Regions from separate parts of the Homo sapiens genome. Here regions 2 and 3 are each linked to region 1. Evidence: fine-mapped expression QTL. A gene starts in region 1. Each other region holds a variant in brackets. All regions are shown on one strand. Distances are between the middles of the regions. Region 1 holds the start of STK10 (serine/threonine kinase 10). Region 2 overlaps STK10 (serine/threonine kinase 10). Region 3 overlaps STK10 (serine/threonine kinase 10).

Evidence for each region. PIP is the estimated chance that this variant, and not a neighbour inherited with it, causes the effect.
Region 2: its variant is the best candidate, but not a certain one, in a credible set for the expression of STK10 in whole blood (TOPMed, PIP 0.89).
Region 3: its variant is the best candidate, but not a certain one, in a credible set for the expression of STK10 in whole blood (INTERVAL, PIP 0.50).

Annotation. Positions count from the first base shown.
Region 1 is chr5:172,184,585-172,191,625 of GRCh38, forward strand. STK10 (serine/threonine kinase 10) reads right to left here and starts at 3,640. Exons shown (of 19, transcript NM_005990.4): 1 at 3,303-3,640. The coding sequence starts at 3,458. RefSeq lists enhancers at 373-422, 1,463-1,512, 1,783-1,832, 2,493-2,572, 3,625-4,400 and silencers at 3,033-3,112, 3,243-3,292, 3,593-3,952.
Region 2 is chr5:172,109,677-172,116,717 of GRCh38, forward strand. All of the region lies in intron 4 of STK10 (serine/threonine kinase 10), which reads right to left. Among named protein-coding and RNA genes, the nearest start is that of STK10, 75 kb to the right of the region's middle. RefSeq lists enhancers at 1,412-1,881, 5,183-5,492, 5,421-5,921. The variant G/A (reference allele first, on the strand shown) is at 3,507.
Region 3 is chr5:172,163,272-172,170,312 of GRCh38, forward strand. The region is part of intron 1 of STK10 (serine/threonine kinase 10); the gene reads right to left. Among named protein-coding and RNA genes, the nearest start is that of STK10, 21 kb to the right of the region's middle. RefSeq lists an enhancer at 1,226-2,205. The variant A/T (reference allele first, on the strand shown) is at 2,789.

The sequences.
Region 1 (7,041 bases):
GGAGGTAGGCGGAGAGGGCTGTGGTGGAGACAGCTCACAACTTTGAGAATTAAAGTCACTTTTTGTTTTTATTGTTGTTGTTTTTGAGACAGAGTCTCCCTCTGTCCCCCAGACTCGAGTGCAGCGGCATGATCTCAGCCCACAGCAACCTCCGCCTCACGGGTTCAAGCAATTCTCCTGCCTCAGCCTCCCGAGTAGCTGGGATTATAGGGCACGCGCCACCACACCCGGCTAATTTTTTTATTTTTTTATTTTTAGTAGAGGTGGGGTTTCACCATGTTGCCCCAGCTGGTCTCAAACTCCTAACCTCAAGTGATCCACCCGCCTCGGCCTCCTGAAGTGCTAGGATTACAGGCGTGAGCCACAGCACCTGGCCCTGGAGTCACTTTTTTAAAAACTGACTTTCCACGTGCTTTGGAGAACCAAGAGGAGACAGTATCGATTGTGGATCGGATGAGTTCCTTTGTATGAAACTTTCAGAGTAGCAGGGGAGTCTTAAGGGACTAAAGCAGGAGGAAACACAACTGAAAATGACAAGGGGAAATCTTACCAGCATGAAAGCAAAGTTCTGCGTTTAAGTTTAAAGGAAGATGAACCCTGTGAAGCCAGGACACACTGCGGGGAAGGGGACAAGAATGCAATTGAAAGCCCCTAACGGAGAAAAAAAAAAGCCCATATGTTTGTTTTGTTTTGTTTTGTTTTTGAGACAGAGTCTCGCTCTGTCGCCAGGCTGGAGTGCAGTGGCGCTATCTCAGCTCACTGCACCCTCCACCTCCCTGGTTCAAACGTTTCTCTTGCCTCAGCCTCCTGAGACGCTGGGATTACGGGCATGCATCACCATGCCCGGCTAATTTCTGTATTTTTAGTAGAGACAGGGTTTCACCATGTTGGCCAGTATGGTCTGAATTTCCTGACCTCATGATCTGCCTGCTTCAGCCTCCCAAAGTGCTAGGATTACAGGCGTGAGCCACCACGCCCGGCCCAAAAAACCCATATGTTTAGCATACGCTAAAAACACCAACTGAACCTTCTGGAGAAAGTGGGTCCTGTGGTGAGCTGACCACAGGGGTCCAGCTGCCCTCACAGTAGTCAGAGCACAGCTGCAGGAGCAGGCTCTGTCTAAGGCAGTCAAGGACACTGGCAGTGTCCAGAGACAGTTGCAAGGCTGAGGATCGTTCTCTGGTGCCACCAGGAAGAAGATGCAGCTCTGAGGAGAGTAAAGAAAAGACGTGCTGAGGACAGGGTGAGCTGGCTGCCCTCAAATATGGGCAAGGCCCTCAGGCAAAGGAGGACAGCAAGTCGGGGCAGTCCAAAAGCACTGCCTCTCGGATCACAAGACCTCTCCCTACCCCATAACAGGAAGTGTGGGCTCAGAGGGGAGGTGGCAAGGAAACAAAACAGGCACCAGGCCAGGCACAGTGGCTCACGCCTGTAATCCCAACACTTTGGGAGGCCGAGGTGGGTGGATCAACTGAGGTCAGGAGTTCGAGACCAGCTTAGACAACATGGTGAAACCCCGTCTCTACTAAAAAAACAAAAATTAGCCAGGCATGGTGGTGTGTGCCTGCAATCCCAGCTACTTGGGAGGCTGAGGTAGGAGAATTGCTTGAACCCAGGAAGTGGAGGTTGCAGTGAGGGCCGAGATCAAACCACCGCACTCCAGCTTGGGCAATAGAGTGAGACTCCGTCTCACAAAAAATAAAAATAAAAAAAGACACTGAGTGGGCCTGGTTGGTCTCAAAATTGCCACCGCTCCAGGTCAGGCAGGGTGGCTCACCGCTGTAATCCCAACACTTTGGGAGGCTGAAACGAGCTGATTTCATGAGCTCAGGAGTTCATGACAAGCCTGGGCTACGTGGCGAAACCCCAAGTCTACAAAAAATACAAAAATTAGCCGGGCTGTGGTGTGCACCTGTAGACCTAGCTACTCCGAAGGCTGAGGCAGGAGAATTGCTTGAGCCCAGGAGGCAGAGGTTGCAGTGAGCCGAGATCGGGCCACTGCACTCCAGACTGAGCAACAGAGGGAAACCCTGTCTCAAAAAAAAGAAAAGAAAAAAGAAAAAACGCCACCACTCCAAGCCTCTAGGGCAGTACTTCTCAAACCTATTTGCTTAGGAATCACCTGGGATCTTATTAAAACGTAGACTCTAATTCAGCAGGTCGGGGCTGGGCATGAGATTGTTCACTTCTGACAAGCTCCCAAATGATGCTATTATAACACCGGTCATCTAGGAACTACTTCGGTAACTAGGCGATAGACCACTTCCAAGTCAGAGGAGAAGGCCTGGAGAAGCCTTCTCTGTGGTCCAGCCTCATAGAACGGCAATCCTAGGGTCAGAGTGCCCTACAAGCTACAGGAGCCCCAAGGAGGAGGATAGTGGCTTAGAAGAGAGGTGCTCTCCTGGAGGTATACACCAATTTAACAAGTGGGCGTCTCCCAGTAAAAATTTTCTTAGGGGAAAGGGGGGAGTCAAGCTGTAGGTGTTGGCTCCCTAAAACAACTCACCACCTCAGAATTAGCTCCCAGGAGCAGAAACCAACGTCCTGCTGCCACACTTCTCTAGACTCAATCAGCTCTGCCCCACCCACTCCACAAAAGCTCTCTGCCGCGTCTTCCTCTAGGGGAGAGGTGACTGCAGGCTGGGAGACTCCCCAGCTGTGACTCAGACCGACGGAATCAAATCTGTTCCCCCAGGCTCAGCATTCACCAGATCCTGACCTCCCCCTCTGACCAGCCCCAACCCACCTTTCCAAGCCCCACCTCTCAGTCCATGGGCCACCCCTCGCCCACCCCACTTCCCTGTCTCTGGCTCATCTTCAGATGTGTCCCTAGCTCCCAACCCGTCCAAGCGCAGCCGAGTTTCTCGGTCCACATCGCCTCGATATTCCCACAGCATCTGTGGTCTCTCTTAAAAAAAAAAGTGTGCCCGTATCGCCGTTTTACGGAACGTCCCTGGAAGGTCCCTCGAGTGGCCCTCTCGGATGCTGAGGTCCTGTCAACGCCCCTTTGTCTCCCCGTGCGGCGCCGAGCGCAGTGCAGGACACACAGGAAGTGCTCCGAAACAGGGCTAGGGTGGGGGCGGCAACCGTGCCCGGAGGGGGCGCCCAGAGCGCAGGGACTCGGCCGGGCCGAGTGATGTTCCCCCCAAAAAACAAGAGTCATCGGGATGAGGGCCAGGGACCCCGAATTCAGCGCCGGGCAGCCCTCGGAGCCGGAGCCAGGCTGGCCGGGTCCGGCTCAGGCATCCCTTCCTTCCGGAGCCCCTCGACGCGCGTCCGGCCACCCACCTCAGCGCCCTCACCTTGTAAACCTTGCCGAAGGCGCCGTCGCCCAGCTCGCCCACGATCTCCCACACCTCGTTGGGGTCCAGGTCGCGGCGGACGTGCTCATATTCGCGGGACTTTCTCTTCTCGAAGGTAGACAGGCGCAGGATGCGGCGGAAATTGGCAAAAGCCATGGCCGGGGGCGCGGTGGCGCCGGCTCGGGCTCGGGCTCGGGCTCGGGCTGTGGCTTCGGCGGCCGCGAGGAGAAGGAGGAGGAGTTGGAGGACGCCGCGTCTCTCGGGGTTCTCCCCAGACCCGCCTTTCCCCGCAGCCCGACCTCGGTCAAGTGTGCCCTGGGCAGCGCCGCGCCGGGAGCACCCGGAACCGCGCAGGCGGCGGCGTGCCCGCCCCCGCCCCCGCCCTGTCAGGTCCCCAGGGCCGCCTCCCTTGTGCCGGCCTCGCAGCTCCTGCCCGGCCCAGCCCTGCCTGCGAGAGCCTCGGACCCGTTCCAGGGGACCGTCCCCGCGCCCGCCCACCGGCCCGGCTCCACCCGCCGCTCCCCGGCAGAGCCCCGGGACCCCCTAATTGGCTGCGGGCGCTCCCCGGCTCCGCCCGTCGCCGCAGGGCACTCTGGAAACTGTAGTCCCCCCACACCACGCTCCGCGAGCCGCGGGCTGGGCTTTGGGGAAGCTTCGGGGACCGCTCGGTGGGACCGCTCATGGACTCAGGAGCCCGCCCGCCGCGCCGCGTGGCTCCCAAAACTTTTATGGGAGCAAGCGGGACGGCGACTTGGCATTTCGCGAGAGCCCACGGATCGTTGTCAGCGCCCAGAAGGTGAACCTGCACTCGTTCATTTAATCCTCCCGCAGCTATTCCGCTAGGCTGCCCTCGCCCCCACTTTTCCGATGGGGACGCCGGCAGGCGAGGGCACTCGCCCCAGGCACACACGCTGGCTGCCCGTCTGCTGCGGGTTCCTCGGCGCGGTGCTGCCTCCTAGTGTGCGACGGGCAACGCCGGTGCAGCCGCGGCCAGTCCCTGCAGGGCCCGGCTTCCCGGCGCGGTCCTTTCCAGGGGCTCCCCGTCCACGATCCACAAACCTGCCAGGATTAGAGGGCTGGGAGAAAGAGCTCCTTTGGCACTGATTTCTCTTATGTTTCCTGATGGGTTTGCGGATGTATTTGCATATTAAATAAAAACTTTATTCTAATTTTTAATTTCCTAGTTTCAAAAAAGATGAGCGCACTACATACAGATCAAACTAAAGTCTTCTTTGAGCACCTTCATTCTCGATCCTGGCTACTTGAGTCACTTCACTGCTACTGTTGCCTGTTTGTCCTATAGACGGTTATAACATGCTTTTACCTGAATCTAAGGAGAGTGCTGGGGGTGGGGGGGGGGGGCGGGCAGTCTGCAAGGGTTATTATTTGGACCGTGTCATAAACAAGTTGAGTCTTCGCAAATGTCACAGTTCAATAGCTCCAACCCCAGAGAACGGCTGTGTTGAGGTGTTTTCGCCCCTTCCTCGGTGCTTTGTTCGAAAACATCCTTTGAACAGTGTGCAAACACCAAGCATGGTTTTCCACTGGGAAAGCCAGCTCAAGAAGCCTGCGATGCTGGTAGTGGTCGGCGCAGAGGGTGTCCTGGTTGCTAAGCCGTTCGGAATGTTTCCACAGCTGCAGGAGTGCCTGGAATTGTAGAGGGTCTTTAAAAGAAGGAAACGCCGCTCGTCGCTGACCGTTCTCATTGAGTCAGGCGCTGTCTGAACCTCCCAAAACATGCTGAAAGGCAGGTCTTTCATTTGTTTCAGACCATTTGGCCAACTGTACGAAGCGGGTGGGGAGACCAAGAGGGTTGCTTCCATACTAGGAGATGAAGGCTCTGACTCCACGAAAGCTGTAGGCCTGGAGGGCTCTGACCAGCTCTGAGAGCTCCAGAAAAGCAAGCAAGCGAGAGAAAGAGAGAGAGAAAGGAAAGAGAGAAAGAGAGAAAGAAAGAAAGAGAAAGGGAAAGGAAAGGAAGAAAGAGAGAAAGGAAAGAGAGAAAGAGAGAAAGAAAGAAAGAGAAAGGGAAAGGAAAGGAAGAAAGAGAGAAAGAAAAAGGAAAGGAAGAGAAGGAGAGAGAAAGAGGGAGGGAGGGAGGGAAGGAAGGAAGGGAGGGAGGGAGGAAGGAAGGGAAAGAAAAACGGAGAGGTTCATTCATTCAATAACACTAAGTCAAAGAAGCCAGACACAAAAGGCCCTGTGTTCTATAAATTTCCATTTATATGAAATGTCTGGAAAAGGCAAATCCATACAGACAGAAAGTAGATTAATGGTTGCCTGGAGCTGGGTGTGAAATGGGAATTAACTGTACATGAACAATAAACAGTCTAATTGGGGTGATGAAAATGTCCTAAAACTGCACAATGGTGACAATTTCATAATTTGGTAAATTTGCCAAAAATAATTGAATTTTAAACTTTCATTTTTGTAAATGGATGAATTTTATGTGTAAATTATACCTCAATAGCATTGTAAGAAATACATTGAGGTTCAATAGAATCAAAGCTACTTCTTTGAAATAACTAATAGACAAGACTAGTCAAAGAAAAAGAAAAAAAGGGTCGGGCACGGTGGCTCACACCTGTAATCCCAGCATTTTGGGAGGCCAAGCTGGGTGGATCACCTGAGGTTAGGAGTTCAAGACCAGCCTGGCCAACATGGCAAAACCCCAGCTCTACGAAAAATACAAAACTTAGCCGGGCGGGGTGGTGCACGCCTGTAACCCAAGCTACTTGGGAGGCTGAGGCAGAAGAATCACTTGAACCCAGAAGATGGAGGTTGCAGTGAGCCGAGATCGTACCATTGCACTCCATCTAGCCTGAGCAACAGAGCAAGACTCCGTCTCAAAAAAAAAAAGAAAAGAAAAAAAAAAAATTGGTGCAAGAAAGAAATATTCACTGGAAGAAATAAAAAATGAAAAGAGAACATCAGATTAGATACTGTAGAAATTTTGATAATCATAAAGTGATATTTTAGACAAATTTATGTGAATAAATGTTTTAATTTACATAAAATGGGTAATTATTGAGAAGAAAATATAAATGATAGGTAAAAGATAATTTCAATAAGAAATAAAAACCTAAATAAACTAGTAACCAATAAAGAAATCAAATCAAGAATCAGGCCGGGCACAGTGGCTCATGCCTGTAATCCCAGCACGTTGGGAGGCTGAGGCGGGTGAATCACCTGAGGTCAGGAGTTCGAGACCAGCCTGGGCAACATGGTGAAACTCTGTCTCTACTAAAAATACAAAAATTAGTCGGGTGTGGTGGTGCGTGCCTGTGGTCCCAACTACTCATGAGACTCAGGCACAAGAATCCCTTCAACCTAGGAGACGGAGGTTGCAGTGAGCCGAGATCACACCACTGCACTCGAGCCTGGGCAACACAGTGAGACTCTGTCTCTAAACAAAAACAAACAAACAAAAACCCAAAAAACAACAACCACAAAAATCAAGAATCAAAAGCTTGTTCTTGGTGAAAGACATCAGTCTGTGTGGTTTTACAAATAATTTCTTTCTTTATATAAATTATTTTAAAAGATAGAAAATGAAGGAAATCTGCCAATTTATTTTATAAGATGAGTTTTACTATTACTAGATAAGGACAGTAAAAGAAAATTGTAAGCCAGGCACAGTGGCTTACACCTGTAATTCCAGCACTTTGGGAGGCTGAGGTGGGAGGATCACTTGAGCCCAGGAGTTCCATACCAGCCAGAGCTATAAAGTGAGACCCTG
Region 2 (7,041 bases), 75 kb before region 1:
ATTCAGCGCTACCAAGAGAAATTTTCTCCAGGGCTCCTGCCTTCTGTGGTGAAGTTTCATCTTGACTGAAAAATAGATTCAGGATGAAACAACACTTTGAGAGAACCCGGGATGCTCCATTTGAAACTCCCTGAATGGAATTTATGAGGGGTGTCCCCTGCTAGATGATGGCTGCCTTTGGACGATTCATCCCAAGAAGCTGCAGCATTATGACAACTTCAGGCCACCCCGGGCACCAGTGCCTGGTCTTGAAATGAGCTGTATCCAGGAGCTCCTTTCAGACTTGCAACGTGAAACAAGGAGGCAGCACAATGCCAAGAGGCTGGGCCTGAATACGGGAGAACTTGGTTCCAGCCTCTGCTCTTCTGCTTCACTGTCCACTCACCCATTCATTCAGGTGCTCACCAGGCTCCATCAGGAGCGAGACACTAGCCGGGATCAGAGAATACAATGAGGACCCTCGGGGAATCCACAGTTTAGTTGGGGGAGCAGAGAGTAAGCAAATAAACAAACATCTACTCCTAACATGGAAAGTGTTGGGAAGACAGGACCGGGGCTACTCAAGAGTGCACAGTAGGGGGTGTGACCTCGAGGGGACGGTCATGGAGGGAGGGCTGGGGGCTTTGGAGGAAGGACAGTTTTATTCAGCATACACTAACTGCACATCTATTATGTGCCCGACACTGTTCTAGGCACAGAGATGAAAGCAACCAAGTCCTGCCTGACATGCCACATGTTATTCCCGTGGTGGCGACAGGCACCTGGCAAAACCCCCGGAATGCCTGGCAGCGAGAAGGGCCCAGGGCTGAGAAGGCAGGGAGAAGAACACAGTGCTGGGGTGCAGGGTGGGGAGCTACTTTAGACACAAACTCAGGATCTGGGGGAGGTATTTCCAGGCAGAGAAAACTGCAAACAGACTGGGAGGCAGGAAACAGCAGGCTGGAGGGACCAGCGGGGACAGGACACAGCCTGGCCGGAAGGAGGGGGCCGGGGGTGGAAGCAGATAAGGCAGGAGACGGGCAGGGCAGTTACAAAGCCTCTGAGCCTCAGTTTCCCCATCTGTGACACGGGGGTGATAGCACAGAACCATTGCGCAGGTTTTCCTGAGGATTAAATGACAAACGCAAAGCACTGTGATGCAAGGTCCACTCGTGGCAAAAGCGAGAAGATGGTGATTCTTTCACCGGCCCATGAGCCAGTCCAGCCTTTTTCAGGCTGGGGCAAGGCTGAGGCTGAACTAAGACCCCCCGGCACCTCCTGGGAGTGGTCAGGAAAGCTGGCTTCTGAGCCCCGGTTAGTGCTAACTGGACAGCAGTTGCTATATCAGGGGACAGTCTGGCCAGCAAGAGGGGACAGGGGGCCCTCAGCCTCCTGAAGTGGGACCAACAGGTGCTGCAAGTGAGGTGCAGAAGCAGGAAACCCAGGTAGAGCCTGGCTCTGCTGATGACTCTGGCAGGCGGCTCCCCTGGGCCTCCAGGGTAAGAATGGGAAGCTGGCCCCACCTTCCTGCTGGGTCAGCCAGGCCCCCCTGTGGGCCTGGCTCCCTCGCAAACACCACTAAGGGCTGGCACATCATCCCATCCCAGGAAACCTTTTGGGAACAGTGACTGCCTCTCAGGCCCAGGGTGAGGATCCCAAAAGGTGGCCACTCCCCGACCACAGGCCCTGCCGATCCCTTCCTGAGAAGAGAGACGAGAAACAGAAACCACCAACGTGCAATGACACACCGTAGGTCCCCAGGGCCTCCCTCAGGCACGCACCAGCCAGCTCTTTGGGTAGCTGCTACTTCCCCTTCTGCCCCACACGATGGGGCCCAGATGGGAGAGTGGGGCAGCCCCACCTTGCAGCCCAGAGAACTGAGCCTGTTTGCTCCCTCCGCAGAGTTTATAAGGGAGTGTCCCTTGATAGCTGATGGCTGCCCTTGAGCAATTCAAAAGGGATTTTCACCATGCAGTCTCTTCTGATGAAAACACTCCCCCTTCTCCTCCCATTTTAAAATGTATTAGAGACAAGGGCGGCGGAGATAAGGGAAATCTCCCTTTCTCCGCTGTAATTTCCATAAAGAAAGAGATCATTTCTGCTGTGGCCACAGTTGTATCCCTGGCACGTTATCTGGAGCAGGAAGCACTCAACAGGTTTATCGAATGAGCATGCTCATAAATAAATAAAGAGACAGAATTTGCTAAAATGCCTTTACTCATATATGTAAAAAATAAAACTGGGTTTTAAAAACTTGTTTGCCAGCAATTCTATTTGTAGAAATCCATCTCTAAAACCAGATCTATAATATATATGGATGCTTATAAAAGCAACAGCCAAAAAGAATGGAAAATTGGAAATCATCCAAAGTGTTGCTGGAGCTTCATTGCTGAATGGTTAGATAAGTTGTGGTTCACCCCAGCTATGAAATAACATGCAGCTCTTAAAAAGAATGAGGCTGTATTTGTATGGACTAACTTGGAAGTGTATCTCTAATACATTAATACATGTCCCAAACATGTTGCTGACTGACTGATGAGTCTTATAAAATGTGTAGCATGATTCCAGAAATGATCCAAGTGCAGGTACTCCAGTAGAAGATTATCTTTAAAGGAATAATATATGCATCTTGTGTGTACATGTCTGCACGCATGTGCATACACACACACACACACCGGTCTGGAAGTCTGCACATCAAACTTAATGTTCATCTCCCTGGAAGTGGGATTTTGGTGGGGGCAGTGCACAGAAGGGACCTTACTTTTTTTTTTTTTTTTTTTTTTTGAGACAGAGTCTCGCATGTCACCCAGGCTGGAGTGCAGTGGTGTGATCTTCGCTCACTGCAAGCTCCACCTCCTGGGTTCACGCCATTCTCCTGCCTCAGCCTCCCAAGTAGCTGGCACTACAGGCACCTGCCACCATGCCCGGCTAATTTTTTTTTTTTTAGTAGAGACGGGGTTTCACCATGTTAGCCAGGATGGTCTCGATCTCCTGACCTCATGATCCGCCCACCTCGGCCTCCCAAAGTGCTGGGATTACAGGTGTGAGCCACTGCACCCGGCCAGGACCCTACATTTTTCACTTTACACACTTTTATTCTTTTTTTTTCAGATGGAGTTTCATTCTTGTTGCCCAGGCTGGAGTGCAATGGCACGATCTCGGCTCACTGCAACCTCCACCTTCCGGGTTCAAGCAATTCTCCTGCCTCAGCCTCCCAAGCAGCTGGGATTACAGGCATGCGCCACCACGCCCGGCTAATTTTGTATTTTTAGTAGAGACGGGGGGTTTCATCATGTTGGTCAGGCTGGTCTCAAAATCCCGACCTCAGGTGATCCACCTGCCTCGGCCTCCCAAAGTGCTAGGATTACAGGCATGAGCCAACGCGCCCGACCCACTTTTGTTCTTTAAAATGTTTTTGATAGAGTGTATTGTTTCTATGGTTTAAAAAACTGAAATGCATATGTAGCAAAGTTTTTTGGTTTTGTGGGTTTTTTTGTTTTTTCTCTATTAAGTAAAACCCAGTAGGG[G/A]CCAGGATGTGGTGAAAAGAGAATTGCACACTGCACTGGGGGGGGTGTCAACTGGTATGACCAGCACGGAGGGCATGCCGGCTGCAGGATGAACAAAACCCCAACTCACTGCACACACCCAGCACTCTGCTTCTGAGAATTCCTCTTCAAGGTATGTTACAGAAAGAGACGCAAAGATCCATGAACAAGCACACTCATCACTGCATGATTTCGTAAAGATGATAAACCTCATGAGAAACCCAAGTATCCAATTCAGGGCTTTCCTCAGGGCTCTGATAGGTAAATTACATTTTGTGCCTGTGATGGGTACAAGAAAAACACGAAAATAATCATGTTTCTGAGGAATCTTTAAGGATATGGAGGAATACGCTGATATTCAATGTTAAAAACCAGACTAGGAAACTGTATATATATATAATAATCCTAGTTTATCTTATAAAAACTAATATTGTCACCGGACACGGTGGCTCATGCCTGTAATCCCAGCACTTTGGGAGGCTGAGGCAGGCAGATCACCTGAGGTCAGGAGTTCGAGACAAAAACCAACATGGAAAAATCCCCTCTCTACTAAAAATACGAAATTAGCCAGGCGTGGTGGCACATGCCTGTAATCCCAGCTGCTCAGGAGGCTGATGCAAGAGAATCGCTTGAACCCAGGAGGCAGCGGTTGTGGAGAGCTAAGATCGTGCCATTGCACTCCAGCCTGGGCAACAAAAGCAAAACTCCATCTCAAAAAAAAAAAAAAGAAAAACTAATATTTACTGAGAACTTACCATATGCATAGCACTGTGCAAAGAAACTTATGCATATCATCTGCATATCTATTCCTACACACATCGTTTATATCTATGACCCTTTAAGGCAGGGAAAATTATGACTCCCATTTTACAGATAAGGAAGCTTAACTTAAGAAAGACTAAGTAATGCACAGAAGGTCACCCAGCTGTGCTCTTTCCCACTATCTGATCCGACTTTTCTGCAGACAAAAAAAGACTTGGAGGGAAGCCCACGGAGAGTGGTGGTTTATTCTGGCAGGATTAGGAAGGACCTTAATTCTCCTTTTTGTGGGTCTTATTCCAAATTGTGTACAGGACTCTAGCTACTCTCGTGTGTGTGTGTGTGTGTGTGTGTGTATGTGTGTTTTCTGATTACCAAAGTCATGTTGCTTATTAAAAACTCATTATTTTTCAGATTAAAAACTATAATACTGACAACTAAACATTTACGGGTTTGCTGTGTATAGCTCCAAATTTATGTATATTAAAATTATATATATATATATATATATATATTTTTTTTTTTTTTTTTTTTTTTTTTTGAGACGGAGTCTCACTCTGTCGCCCAGGCTGGAGTGCAGTGGCGCAATCTCGGCTCACTGCAAGCTCCGCCTCCCGGGTTCACGCCATTCTCCTACCTCAGCCTCCCGAGTAGCTGGGACTACAGGCGCCCGCCACCATGCCTGGCTAATTTTTTTGTATTTTTAGTAGAGATGGGATTTCACCGTGTTAGCCAGGATGGTCTTGATCTCCTGACCTCGTGATCCGCCCGCCTCGGCCTCCCAAAGTGCTGGGATTACAGGCGTGAGCCACCGCACCCGGCCGGTTATTTTTATTTTCTTCCGTTTTTTAGGAACCTAGAGACGCGTGCCCATTTGATAAGGGCTTCGTCTTCCGGTTTGACCCCCCACCTTCGGCCTTCACTGACTCTCCTCCTCGCAACACACTGCACTGTCTTCCTGACACCCTCCACGCACTCACCGCCAACCCAGCCCTTTCTTGTTGCTTCCCATCCCTCAAGCTTCTGCCTCACTTACTTCCCCTCTGCTGGGCCTGTGCGATTCTCACAGGCTGGGCAGGGTAGGTAGACCGCAATTTTTTTTTCTGGCCAGTCCGAATCCTCCCTTCCTCTGAAAAACCATCTCCCCACCCACCACACTGCCTCATTGCGGGGGCGAGGGCTACTTCCGTGTTGTCACGTGACCCCACCCTCCGTGCCAGAGACTGAAGACAAGCCGGGCCTGTGGGAGACCCCCTCCTGCCTGGGCCTCACTGATTGGTCCAAGGATTACTATCTGGGCCAAACGGGGCCAGTCAGAGCCCTCCCCTGGGATTATTGATGCCAAAGCCTCCAATGGTGAGTTCGGGTTCAGGCAGCAGCAGATGATGCCGGGAAATGTGAAACTAGATGGTATCCTGAGCTTGGTGGAGAGGGTTGGTCTGGGAGCCGAACCTACATGCACAGAAAGCCAAGGGCCAGGGATACGGTCCTGGCAGCGTTAAGGGCCAGGGATACGGTCCTGGCAGCGTTTATGTTCCAGGTTTCAACTAACTTTAAGGCCCACCCAGCTGTATTTCTTCTCCAATTTGGCTCCATGATGTACACATTTTCCTGTCTGCCTTAACTCTTAGGAAGTGGGTTTTTATCATTTGCCACTAAGAGAGGCGACAAGAGGGTAGTGGTTAAGCACGTAGGCTCTGGACCCAGCTGCCTTGGTTTGAACCCCAGTTGTTCCTCTTATCGGCAATGTGACCTTGGATAAGTCAGTCTTGCTAGGTCCCAAATCCATCCTGCAAGATGATATCAGTGGCTTTTGAGAATGGAATGAGTTAACACATATCAGATGCTGGCTCAGTGCATGGTAGCTCTAGTGAAAGAACCAGGCCCCCAGCCTGCTGGTAGCAGGAAATAGCAATGCTGGGCTGGGTGAAGGCAGCAGTGAGAGATGGGCAGTTGGCTTCCTGACTGGTCCACCTGCCAAGTCTCCAGCACATTGGGCGGGGCATGGGGGTTGGGAGTTGGGGATGCTGAAGTAACTAACCATAGGCTAAAGTGGTGGTCATGCTGGAAGTGACTGTTTATTGAGCACCAACTATGTGTTGTTTGTTTTTTTGTTTTTGTTTTTGTTTTTGTTTTCGTGAAACAGGGTCTTACTCTGTTGCCCAGACCGGAGTGCAGTGGTGCAATCTCAGCTCACTGCAAACTCTGCCTCCTGGGTTCAAGCGATTCTCCTGTCTCAGCCTCCTGAGTAGCTGGGAATACAGGCGTGTGCCACCACGCCCGGCTAATTTTTGTATTTTTAGTAGAGATTGGGGTTTCGCCATGTTGGCCAGGCTGGTCCTGAACTCCTGACCTCAGGTGATCCACCCACCTCGGCCTCCCAAAGTGCTGGGATTACAGGCGTGAGCCACCATGCCTGGCCGAAAATCATTACTTTAAAAAATGCATTGTAGCCATATCATTTGGCGATGCAGAAGTACACATGAGAAGAGCTCAAAGCGCTTGTCTCTGCAGGTGGATGGCAAAAGGAGACACGTGAGGGGATGACACATGTATGTGTTATTTTGGTTAAAAAAATAAAAACATTAAAAATACAAAGAGGAGACATTTAAAGAAGAAGGTTTTGAGCCGGGCGGGGTGGTTCACACCTGTAATCCCAGCACTTTGGGAGGCCGAGGCGGGTGGTTCACTTGTGGTCAGGAACTCGAGACCAGCCTGGCCAACATGGTGAAACCCGGTCTCTACTAAAAATACAAAA
Region 3 (7,041 bases), 21 kb before region 1:
GGTGATGTGCCTCAGGTCACACAGCGAGTGGGGGTGGAGGGTAAAGGCTGGATCCAATTCAAGCCTTCCTTACCTCCAAAACATTTCCCCCAAAGACCTTTCCTGATGACTGTCCAGAGCTCCCTGTTCTATCTCCCTTTGCTAAAGATGAATGACAATCACAGCCAATAGCAACCACTCACAGCAAGGGAGTGCCTGGCAGCTGAGGAGTGCTCAGGCAGCCAGAATGTCATCTGCCAACAAACCGTTAAGGCCAGCGTTAGCCTTGGTGCCGGTTTCCCAAGTGAGCAGACTGAGGCTTGGGAATCCAGCAGGACTGTGAGCTGTCACAGTGGCCTCCTGACTCCCGGCCTAGTGTTCACTACACCACACTGCCAGGAAGCAGCTTATTCCCTAGTCATTCATTCAACCACTATTTACTTGGCTAAATTCTAATGAACAAGACAAGCAATTTTCTGCCTAGGAAAATTTGCATGAGGGAATCACTGCCCTCCCATATCATAATTCACCCTTCCCCGATTTTTCTTCAGCAGGGACCAACCTGCCCTCATTTCCAGTCCCTAAAATACAATATCTAGAAGTGGGTAGGGACTCATCTTGGCCAATCAGAATACCGCGCTCCCTCTGGCCACAGTGATTGGCTCAAGAATAGGCACGTGGCCAGGCGCGGTGGCTGACCCCTGTGATCCCAGCACTTTGGGAAGCCTAGGCAGGTGGATCACCTGAGGTCAGGAGTTTGAGACCAGCCTGGCCAACATGGTGAAACCCCACCTCTACTAAAAATACAAAAATTAGCTGGGCGTGATGGTGCATGCCTGTAATCCCAGCTACTCGGGAGGCTGAGGCAGGAGAATCACTTGAACCCGGGAGGCGGAGGTTGCAGTGAGCCAAGATAGCGCCATTGCACTCCAGCCCGGGCAACAAGAGCGAAACTCCATCTAAAAAAAAAAAAAAAAAAAAAAAAATTGGCATGTGATCAAGTCAGCCAATGAAATGCATTCTCAGAACAACTGCTGAGCCAGCTGAGACTGCTGCAAGCTCTCCTTGACTTCTAGCCTCCAGCCTAAAGCCATCCTGCCCCTAAGGGGGCCTGAAAATCAAACTAGGTCTGAGGCACTAAAGCTGAGAGAGGGCATGAGAAGACCGTTGATCCCTTCAATTAACTTTTACAACTCTCTATTAAGGGCTTTATTTTATATATAAGAAAACCGATGCTTAGAGAGATGAAGTCACCGGCCCAAGGTCACACAGCAGGTTCAAAGGATTAGGAATTGAATTCCGGCCAATGTGGGTTCAAATTCCATGTATCTGACAGCTTTGCCAGAGATGCCTGTATATTCTGCAAAAGTCTCATCTGGGCCTCAGTCTCCCCCCTATATGGGGGAGGATGGATGGTGAAATGATGTCCAACTCTCTCCATGCTCTGATGAGAGCCGTCTTAGGGAGTGGGTGAGTCTTGGAAAGCTAAGGGTGGTCCAAGTAGATGAGGCCCACGTGGGAGTTGGCAGGCAAGGAATAGCATAAAGAACAAGCGGCTGTCTGTGGCCTCCGATGTCCCTCTCTCCCAGCGGCTGAAGCAAGGCCGGGTTCCGGCGCACGATGAGGGGAGCCTTGGCCCAGCCTTCCACTGCTGGCTGGCAGTGACTAACGCCTCAGCCCACACCCTTGCGAGCAGATACACAGTGGCCACTTGTGTTTTCTGGCCCAAGCACCTCTGTGGGAACAATCCTCCCCCTTGTACCCGCAAGGGGCCCAGCCTGGAGGAGGTGGGGATAACCCTCCCAGCCGGGGACACTGCTTCACCCAAGGGGCCCAGCCAGCCCAGTCAGGGGCTGGGGGCTTCCTGAGAGTCAGCTGCACAAAGGCCAGCAGGGGACCCACCCCCAGGCCCTCCCCTTCCCTCCCGGCTGCCCACTGATCAGTGTGTTGCTCCCACCGCTTCCCGGGAAATAGCTGATATCACAGACCTCAGGACAGTGAGAAAACATTAGCCACCCCTCCTTAACTCCAGCTCCCCAACCCAACTCTGCAGATGAGGAAGCTGAGTCCACCAAGGCGAATGCAGAGACCAGGGTCCCATCTGTGACACTTGTCTCATCTGTGACACAGGTGTGCCTCAAGAAGAGTAAATGAGAACACAAGAGCAAAGAGCCTAGAGGGGCCTGTTCCTGGGGCACCCCTAACCTCAGGTCTGGGAGCCACTGGAGCTGCTGGGAAATTGACCCTGGGGCTGGGGAGCAGTGGGGGACTTGGCCAGCATCCATTCCCCCTTGTGGATTCAAAACTCTAGTTGCTTTTGGACACTGCCTCTCCCTCGCTCTGAGTCCAAGGGATTCATAGCGGGTTGACCTCACCCTGGGCCGGGGCATACCCCAGGCCCAGCTAATCAGAGGACTGAACCAAGGGCGCCTGAAAATGAAACTTGTCACAGTCATTGGTTCAGAGATGCCTGGGCATGGTCCCAAGGCAGGCCAACAGGGTCGTGCCTGGGTGGCTCTTTAAATTTGTTTTTGGTTGTTTGCTTTTTTTTTTTTTTTTGAGACGGAGTTTCCCTCTTTGTTGCCCAGGCTGGAGTGCAATGGTGCGATCTTGGCTCACTGCAACCTCCACCTCCCGGATTCAAGTGATTCTCCTGCCTCAGCCTCCCGAGTAGCTGGGATTACAGGCATGCGCCACCACGCCCGGCTGTTTTTGTATTTTTAGTGGCGACGGGGTTTCTCCATGTTGGTCAGGCTGGTCTCGAACTCCCGACCTCAAGTGATCCGCCCACCTTGGCCTCCCAAAGCGC[A/T]GGGATTACAGGCGTGAGCCACTGCGCTCGGCCAGTTGTTTGCATTTTTGCTGAAGTTATCAGGACAGCAGCTTTTTCTTTCTCTGGCGCTGCTAAATCGGTAGAATGAAAGGCTGAAGGGTCTTGTAGCCCATCTTGCCACTCCTTCAGAGTGGCTGCCGGAGGGTGAGGCCAAGATGGCAGAAGCAGGGCTCACAAATGGAGTGCTACTGGCTCTGTGGAACACCTGGAGACAGCTGTACCTGAAGGCGGACTCTACCCGTAGACTTCTCAGTTACATGAGCCGATAAATTCCCTTTTGGATTCCTGCCATTGGCCACCAAGAAGGAGATGAGTTCCCTCTCTCTGGGGCTGTTCCAGCAAGGAACAGATATCTAGAGGAGTGCCTCACCACACAACACGCGTGTATCAAGGGCCACCTTCATTCCCAAGCCCACCATAATCTATAAGGTGACATTCACTGAGACCTCACCAAAGAGCTGACTGATAATCTAGGATTTGGAGACCTACATGGAAAACACGTAGGACAGAGGCCAACAGCAACTATGGAATTCTTCTGCCAAAAGAATCTTCCTCCAAAAAAGTGGAAAGGATCATTTTACACTTAATAAATTAGCAAAAACATGCAATTGTGACAACCCAGCACTGGAGACGATGTAGTAAAATGGGTGAACGCATTACTGACAAGAATAGAAACTGATTCAATCTTTCAAAGACAACAATTGGAAATAGGTTTTAAAAGCCATGAAAATACCTTTTCAGCCTATTATCCCTCATTCCTGGGAATTTAAGGCCAGGAAATACTTTTAAAAAGACAACAGGCCAGGCACGGTGGCTCGTGCCTGTAATCCCAGCACTTTGAGGGGCTGAGGCGGGCGGATCAGAAAGTCAGAAGTTCGAGGCCAGGCTGACCAACATAGTGAAACCCCGTCTCTACTAAAAATACAAAAATTAGCCAGGCAAGATGGCGCGCACCTGTAGTCCCAGCTACTCGGGAGGCTGGGGCAGAAGAATCACTTGAACCTGGGAGGCAGAGGTTGTGGTGAGCTGAGATCGTGCCACTGCACTCCAGCCTGGGAACAGAGCAAGAATCTGTCTCAAAAAAAAAAAAAGAAAAAAAAGAAAGGCAACAAAAGAAATGTACTAGGATCATGTTCAGTTTATATTAGTCCATAATAATAGAAAAAAGGTGAAATCACTAAAGACAATGGTTAAATTAACTTAATGGGATATTAAGTAACCCTTAAATGATAAACAAGAAGATAATACAGTAATGAGAAAAAATCCTTAAGCCATAATAGTAAATAACAAAATAGGATAATGAAATTGTAACTAGGCTACAATTTTCCTTTGGGAAAACTGCATGTGCCTATGGACAGGGACGAGCTAAAACACAGCATAATGAAGTCAAGCGATTTATAAAGATGATTTTCACCCAGTGACATCTGGCAATTATCCACAGGGGTCCCAGCGAGGGCAGACTGGGACTGGTGCAAATAAGCCTCCCACATAGAGAGAGACCACTTCATCTGAGCTTGCCTTACACGTTCCAGAGACAGACACCCTCGTTCTTTCGGAACCCACATGAGCTGCACTGTCTGATACAGTAGCTACTAGCCGCACGTGGCTATTTAAATTAATAGATATGAAGCAAAAATTTAGTTCCTCAGTTGCATTAGCCACATTTCACGTGCCACCACACTGTGGCTACCGTATTGAACAGAGCAGGTACATACAGAACACTTCGATCACTGTAGAAAGTTCACCCCCAGCCCTCTCTGGCAGAAAATGCCTCTTCGGAGGTAAGGGAGCATCTAAAACTCACTCCACTGTCCCAGACCCAGATTCTGAAACATGGGTTTCTTTTTCTAGGAAGCAAAAGGGGACATGTGCAAGGAATCAGCAGAGGAACCCCACCCAATGATCATTTGCTACGGAAGTCTCCTAGCAACCTGGCTGAGTGGCAGGTGTGAGGGAAGGCTCCCAGCTGACCTGTCGGATGAAAAGCCTGGGTGTGGGTCAGAGCCAAAGGACGGAGCAGTCAGGGCTCAGGGTTCCTATTTCCCTGTCTTTATTCTGGACGGCCGTGCCAGGCATGTATCAAATATGGTTCAGGCCACTGGAACCAAAGCAGGGCTTGGTCTGGGTGTCACACAATGTACAGCTGTGCTGTCCCTGCCTGAACACAGTTAATCTTTGCATGGTGATGAAGGCGGTCAATCGCAGGAAGGGCTGCGACTCTATTTAGGAGAGAGAAAATCTGGCCCCAGAGAAAACCACGGTCACAGCAGAACTGACTATGTGCAGGAAAAGGGCCCAACATAAAGCCAAAGGGGGTGACCTGAGGACAGCAGACACAGAGCCGGGGTGGCCAGCTGACATGGGCTTGAGTTTAGAGCCCACTAAGGCCCCTGGCTGGCAGGCGTGAGTCAGCAGAGGACAGGAGCCTTATGCACCACGGGCCTGGGCCTTGGGAGGCCCAGGTCCTTGCGGGCTCAGGATGAAAAAGGCCTGTCAAACCCTCTTATGGTCTCTTGCTGCAGGGCAACGAGCAGCCCGCCTTTCTCCAGCACAGGCCCATGAAGTACACAGAGGTACCACCATCGCCTTTTATGGAAGAGAAAAGGGAGGCCCAGGCAGAGAAACTGACTTGTCCCAGGTCACATAGCTAGGAGGCACTGGCAGGCCTGGAGCTCAGCTCTGGCTCTCCGCCCAGTGCTCTGTGCCCTCAGCAGCCCACCAAAGTTGTCATGCCAGGGGTCTCCCGCCCAGCTGCTCAGTGTGCCAGCCCTCCTTCCCCTCTTTCCCTCCGTGGCCTTCAACCAGAAACACTCAGGGTGAACCCTCAAGGGCTCCTAGCTGCTGACAAGCTAACGCAGGAGCTCCCTGGCCCAGCACTCACACCCTCATGACCTGCCCCTGCCCACTTCCCCAGGGTCCCGCCATTCCCTCTCACTCAGCCCCGTGCCTGCTGCCTACTTCCCAGCCCTCTTCATGCTCCCTCCTCCACAGAGAACACCTCCTCCCTACCTGCGTTTAATCAGCCAGCAAAATCGAACTCAACCCCAGCCTAGCTCATGACATCTTCCCCAGAACCCCAGCCCACCTCCCCGACTAGAATCTCTTTGCACCTTGTTAAGGTTTTCATCGCAGACTGCCCTGTCCCCTGGGCATCTGCATCACAGATTCTCTGACCTGGCTGTGATCTCTGAAAGGCTCAGCCCACCTGACTCCTCTCAGTCTACCCTACAGAGCCTGGCACAGAAGAGCCAGTGGGTAGATGGGACAGTGGGAGTGGGAGTGAACGGGAAGATAGGTGGGCAGACAAGCACATGGAGGAGTGAACGGATGGGAGGTAGGGGCTGGAGGAATGGATGGGAAAATGAGTTAAGTGGGATGGTGAATGGATGAGAGGTTGGGTGAATGGATGGGTGGGCAGAAGAATGGGAGGGTGGGTGGATGGGCAGATGAATGGAAGGATGGACAGATGCATGGGAGAGTGAGTTGGCAGGGGCATGAATGGGTGTGCATGAGACTAGGTGGGTATGAGAGGGATAAAGGAATGACATGTATGTCCAGGGAGTAGACAATTATCATCTTCCCTTCTTTCCAAAAGGCACTTGAGCCCACCCTTGCTGGGTTCTATGAACATCAGCCTCTCTCCTTCCTTCAATCCTGTAGCCAATAAAGTTATTGTTACAGGAATCGACCCCGCTCCCTCCGATGTCCCCATCTTGGCAAACTTAGAAATGAGCAAATTTCTATCGAGCAATTTGTGGAAACAGCGCAGGACCTAAGCTCAAGTCCCAACTCTACTACTTACTAGCTAAGTGTGCTTGCGGAAGCCAGGACACCAGGCCTTCGTTTCCTGATGAAGACATAAACAATTTCAGTGACGCACGGGAAAATCAATAAACCACTATGGGTTAGCCAGTTGACTATTGGTTGTTACTGTTCTCTCTTGGAACTGTGTATTTTTTGTTTTTGAAAGCCTAAAAACATGTTTATTTTGTTCACCAATGTATCTATTACTCTGGTCATGGCAGACACTCAGTATGTATCCTTTTTTTTTTTTTTTTCAGTATGTATTCTTAAATGACTAAGGAATGAATGAATAAAACTGGTGTTTGTGCCTCCCTGCAAACAGAGAGAAATGAGGTCCTCCACATAAGAGAGGAAAGGAAAGTGATAAGAAGTCGACTTTCTCCATAACATATTTCTATTTCTGAATCTCTGGCTGTTCTCCAGTTTTG